2 separate regions of the Homo sapiens genome follow, and region 1 is linked to region 2. Evidence: fine-mapped expression QTL. A gene starts in region 2. The other region holds a variant in brackets. All regions are shown on one strand. Distances are from middle to middle. Region 1 overlaps LOC124903214 (a long non-coding RNA gene). Region 2 holds the start of MCF2L (MCF.2 cell line derived transforming sequence like).

Region 1 (2,915 bases), 41 kb before region 2:
CTGGTCTGTTTGCACAGCGGAGTGCGGTACGGCCTGCTCTATATACACAGCGGAGTGCAGTATGGCCTGGTCTATATGCACAGTGGAGTACTGTACGGCCTAATCTATATACACAGCGGAGTGCACTATGGCCTGGTCTATATACACAGCGGAGTGCTGCATGGCCTGGTCTACGTACACAGCGGAGTGCAGTACGGCCTGGTCTACATACACAACGGAGTGCTGCACGGCCTGGTCTACATACACAGTGGAGTGCAGTACGGCCTGGTCTACATATACAGCGGAGTGCAGTACGGCCTGGTTTCTATACACAGCGGAGTACTGTACGGCCTGGTCTATATACACAGCGGAGTGCTGCACGGCCTGGTCTACATGCACAGCGGAGTACTGTACGGCCTGGTCTACATGCACAGGGGGGTGCTGTGCCACCTGGTCGATATGCACAGCAGAGTGCTGTGTGGCTTCATCTATATACACACAGTGGAGTGCTGTATAGCCTTGGAAAAGGATGAAACCGTATCATTTGTGACAACATATATGAACCCAAAGGACATTCTGTTAAGTGAAATAAGCCAGGCACAAAAAGACAAATCCTGCATGTTCTCACTTACATGTGTACTCGCAGAAAGGGGAACTCATAGGAGCAGAGTGGCGGTCGCCTGGGGCAGGGGGCGGGGTGGGATGTGCTGGGAAGATGTTGGTCAGGGATTATTGTACAGTATGGTGACTATAATGAATTTCTGAAATTGCTAAGAGTAGATTTAAGTGTTCCCACCACTAAGAAATAAGCATATGAGTTAAGACATGTGCTAATTAGCTCGATTTAGCCTTTCCACTGTGCATACATACTTCAGACCATCATGTAGTGTGCTATAAATACAGTTTTTGTCAATTTAAAAGAAAAAAGATGCTAAATCACACTTACAGAGAAATATGAATTAAAAGCACACTGGCATACTGCCTCTTGCTAATCAGAAGTTTAGCTGGAGAAGTGGGGAGGGCTGAACTCTCCCGTGGCATGGCTGCGGCAAATGGCATGACCTCATCATGTGAACTTGGCAGTATCTAGCGAGGTCATAGACACGTTTGCCCTTTGACCAGCAATTCCACTTCTAGGAATCTGTCCCAAAAGTACTCTGGCAGAAATAGAGTTATTTGCAATTTTTTAATAGTCTTCTAGTCTTGATGTTGAACTGGAAGCATCTGTATAAGTCCAGTGTCTTTTATCGTAAAATACATGGTTTCTAGACCTGTCCATGGAAAAAACTGAACACAGAGAGCCCAGTTGTGGTCTCCTCATGTCATTCCCACTGAGAAGATCTGGAGGTCTTTGGATAAATGACCGGGTCTGGGGAAAAATGTTTCCAACGAGCCTACAACATCTTGTTCTACCAGCAAGTGCAAGACTAAAAGGTAATGAATGACTCTTTATAAAACATCAACACAATACAGTCAATTCCACAGCCTCTGATCAGGAAGCTGCTGGCATCACAGAAGGCGAGTTGGACATTAGCACCTCCCTTGGTGAACTGCTCTTGCCAAAAAAGTAAAAGTAAAAGCTGAACCAGAATCTGACCAGGCACCTAGATGTAACTGTCAATTTATAGGAAATACCGGGGACAGAGGCACATGATAAACACCTCCAAGGGGGCGTAATCGACAAAACCCACCTCATGTGAAGCTC[T/C]ACATGACAAATGACCTGGTTTCTCCAACAACAACAACAAAAATACAAAGAAAAGAGAATCAGCAAGAAAACCTGTCTATCAAAAGAGACTCAGGAAATAGCAGCCAATTGCAGGCTATGGACTGGATAAGATTTTGATCCTAGTTCAAACAAAATGTGTCTAGAAAACACAGAGAAAAATAACAGGAGAAACGTTAACACTGGCTAGATATTTAATTCTGAATAATTATTAATTGTATTGTGGCTGTGGAATTGATTGTATTGTGTTTATGTGTATAAAAAGTCATTACCTTTTAGGAATGTTTACTGAACTCTGCACGTGTTAACAGTTCTGTGCTGTCTGGGGTTTGCCTTGGATTGATGGTGGTGGGCAGCCGTTGCTGGGGATGCGGGTGAAACGCGGCCGGCCGTGCACCAACGTTGTTGCAGTCATTGCACCGTTTCTGATGTTTTTGCACTCGTTTGAAATTTCTATGATTTAAAGAAAACTTTTTATAATGTAAGTTGCATGGCAGACACTGCCCTACCTGCTTGATTCCTCAGTCTTCTAAGCACTGCTGTGGTCTTTTTTCCTCACAGTCATAATTAATTCTCTGCGTGAATGTGCCTCGTTATAATCCTTGGAAATGTGCACAGAGCCTATTTCTGTCTAGCCATGCCAGCCGTTACTGTACTTGCAAAGATGCTATCTAAATGGAAAGGAACTATGTCCATATCTTTCAAATAAATATGGTGCTTTTTTCCTCCCTTCACCCCCAAAAAAGTCATGATGACTGTCTACTCCTAGTATTTGTTTTATAGGAGCATTGGCATCGCTAGTGTCTGTGAATAGCTGGAGTGTGCACTCTGAAACTTTACTTTGCCTGTTGTATGGGACACACACAGGACTAAGAGACACATGTAAAACGCATGTGGTCTTGGCACGGGGAAAGGACCATATGTTTTTTAAAAACAGTCTCCAGCAGCTCTGACGCTTCCCTGCAGGGGAGAGGGATGTGCGTGCTCCTCAGACCCTCCTTGAGAGGACTTCCCGGCCGAGGGCCTTTTCTGGCCACATACATGGATGGAGGTCTGCGCCTCCTCCCAGCTGACAGTCTGTGGCATCTGCAGTGGGGCTGTCTGTGGCTGGCACCTGTGGACACAGAACCAGGAGACACAAGCCAGCCTTTACTGGAGCATGTTAGAGCCAGGACGTGCCTCTCACCTGAGCTACTCAGCGTGCAGATGACAA
Region 2 (2,915 bases):
TCTGTAATTATTTTTTATTATGAATTATTTATTTCCAGATCTGTCTGGCCTATAAGGCCTGTAGGCACTATAAGGGGGAGTACTGCGTCACCTTCATCTTTTTATCCCTTTGGCCTTGCTCCGTGCCTGAAAGCTCACCACACTGGAACGTCCAGGTGCACATGTGCCACTGGACACCGGGATGTTGCCGGATGCTCTTTTGGACGCTGGAATGCTGGTGCATTGTTGCCGGATGCTGGAATGGTGCACGCACGCTCTGTTGGACGCTGGAATGCTGGTGCATTGTTGCCGGATGCTGGAATGGTGCACGCATGCCCTGTTGGACTCTGGAATGCTGGTGCATTGTTGCCAAATGCCGGAATGGTACACGGATGCTCTGTTGGACGCTGGAATGCTGGTGCATTGTTGCCGGATGCTGGAATGGTGCACGCATGCTCTGTTGGACGCTGGAATGCTGGCGCATGTGCACATGTTATTGGCATGAGCTGTAGTTCAAACCTCAGCCATATGATGCTTGAATTCCCAAACCATTCGTGGAAATGTGTACTTCTTCCTGCTGGAATTCTCTCTCTCTCTCTCTCTCTTTTAACTGATTGGGGAGTGAGGTGGGGGGGGGGGTCTTGCTACATTGCCCAGGCTCAAACTTCTGGGCTCAAATGATCCTCCTGCTTCTGCCTCAGCTTCTGCCTCGGCCTCCGGAGTAGCTGGGACTACAGGCCTGAAATACTGTTTCTTTAAGGAAGGGCATGTTACCTATAATACCAAACCACAAAAGGATAGCTGCGGTTTTGGGCGAGGAGAGCTCAGAGAGTTTCTTGCATATGGCCCTGTGATGGCGGCCATGGCCCTGCATAGACACGAGCTGGAATCTGCAGGTGGCAGCCAGGACGCTGCGTGTGTCGAGTGCACAGTGTGGCTTGGTGCCAACCATGGCGAGGGTGGAGAGCCCCGTGCCTGCAGCGCGCGCTTCCCTCACTGGGTCCTGCGTCCTTGGGCAGGCGATGCCCCTGCGGGGAGGGGCTGGTCCATCCCCGGCCAGCCACGGACCCACGCATGGACCCAGCGACCCACGGACCTGCTTACCTGGGCGCGGCGCGGGTGGCATGCGGCCACACGGAAGGGGCGCGCTGGGCTGCTGCGGCCTCTGCAGCTTCTACACCTGCCACGGGGCGGCCGGAGGTAAAGGGAGGCGGCGGCCAGGCGCGGCCCCGCGGAGGCAGCTGCACTCGCTCGGTCCACTCGCGGCTTCGCGGCTGCCCGCAAACCAGGAGGGCGTGGAGACCCGGAACCGGGGGGAAGGGCGGGGGCACTTGTGCGGCACCCGCGGGGCTCCCAGGGGACCTCGGCGGTGACACGAATTTCTAGGTGACCTTGGCGGTGACACGAATTTCTAGGTGACCTGTGTGATACACTAGGTGACCTAGTGACACAGGTGACACTTCCAGGTGACCGCGGCGGTGACCCGCGGGGCTCCCAGGTGACCTCGTTGGTGAGCCCCGGGGCTCCCCGACGACCGCGGCGGTGACACGCGGGGCTCCCAGGTGACCCCGGCGGTGCACTCACAGGACTCCCAGGTGACCCGCGGTGGTGACACACCGGGGCGGGCGCGCGCCGCTTCCGCTTCCGCCGAGCCGCCCCCCGCCCCCCGCGGCGCAGCGCGCGCCCCCCTCCCGGTGGCGCGGAACCAATCCTGGGCAGGGAGGCGGCGGCTGGAGGCTGAAAGCGCTGCCGTGGCCCCCTCCCCGCCTCCGCCGCGCCCCCTCCGCACTCGCACGGCCCCACCCGCAGGCGCCCCCCGTGCGGAGGAAGCGGATCTGCCAGGATCATTTTTGTTGTGTCGGAGGATGAGGTTTTGGCTGAGGACTGAAGAGATGGCCTTGGAAGAAATGGTGCAGAGATTAAATGCGGTTTCCAAGCACACGGGTAGGAGGAGCTGCTGGCCGTCAGTGATCTGTGCTTAAGCTTGACATCATGGGCTGAAATGTGGGGAAATGCGTCTGATTTTTGTAAGCCGCCCTCGTGTTCCTTTCTAGCCGTGGTAGCTGTGACATGGGGGGCACTGGTTGGCAGCTGGTGTGTTTTCAGAGGCTGTCGGCGATCGTATGCTGCCCGGGATAGTCAAAATGACTGCACGTTGGTGACACTGGCTCTCTCAGGGTTGCTGGGTCTGCATGCGGAGCCATTTGTGTGTCTGAAGTCTGCCCATCAACCTGCCTGTCCGCAGCCCTCGCAATGGAGAATGCATTGCGAATGGAGAATGATCTGAGCCAAGGGCTTTCAGAGCTTGGGGTTTCAGAGCCAGGGGTAGGGATGGTGAAGCTACCTGGAAGCTCGTTTTGAGGATGAAAAAACCTGGACTAATCAGGTGGTTCTTTTCTTCATTAAATGCAATTTAAACCTAAGACAGATGTTTGAGACGGTATGGGTAAAGAGTGGACTGGACGTTCATTTTCAGTATTAATCGAAATATTACTTCAAATAAGCTTTGAAGAGTAGTTCAGATCGATTCTTTTAGGTGTAAGCAGAGACTGGGCTGACAGCTTGCATCTGGCCGTGGCTTTCAGGCGGTCGCATCTGAGTTCTCAGGCTGTGTTATGCAGAAGGGAGAGGCATCCTTAACTCGTTTTCCTTGAAATGAAGAGGAAATAATGATATATCATTAAAAGTAAGTTGCCAAGTGTTTTGCCTGATGTTGCCATATGTTATGTCATATATGCCATTACTAGTTGTCTAACTAGTACTTGCCTGGGAGATTAAAATGTCAGTTGCTTGGTTTGGGTGTGGTTCTCTTTCTCTGCCCACCCCGATGGATTCTGAGAGTGAACCAGTGATTAAATCAGCATAAGCACCATCGTATGGGATGGTCTAATCAAGATGTTTTTAATGGGGGCTTTTATGATCAAAGCTGCTGGGTT

What was found.
Region 1: its variant is fine-mapped to the expression of MCF2L in whole blood (INTERVAL, PIP 0.98).

Annotation. Positions count from the first base shown.
Region 1 is chr13:112,926,132-112,929,046 of GRCh38, forward strand. It overlaps LOC124903214 (a long non-coding RNA gene), which reads right to left. Exons shown (of 2, transcript XR_007063877.1): 2 at 1-2,915. It also overlaps a transcript of MCF2L not described here. Among named protein-coding and RNA genes, the nearest start is that of MCF2L-AS1, 41 kb to the right of the region's middle. The variant T/C (reference allele first, on the strand shown) is at 1,685.
Region 2 is chr13:112,967,536-112,970,450 of GRCh38, forward strand. It overlaps MCF2L (MCF.2 cell line derived transforming sequence like), which reads left to right and starts at 1,679. Exons shown (of 30, transcript NM_001112732.3): 1 at 1,679-1,923. The coding sequence starts at 1,845. It overlaps MCF2L-AS1 (MCF2L antisense RNA 1), which reads right to left and starts at 1,103. Exons shown (of 1, transcript NR_034002.1): 1 at 1-1,103. RefSeq lists an enhancer at 834-1,353 and a silencer at 1,555-1,614.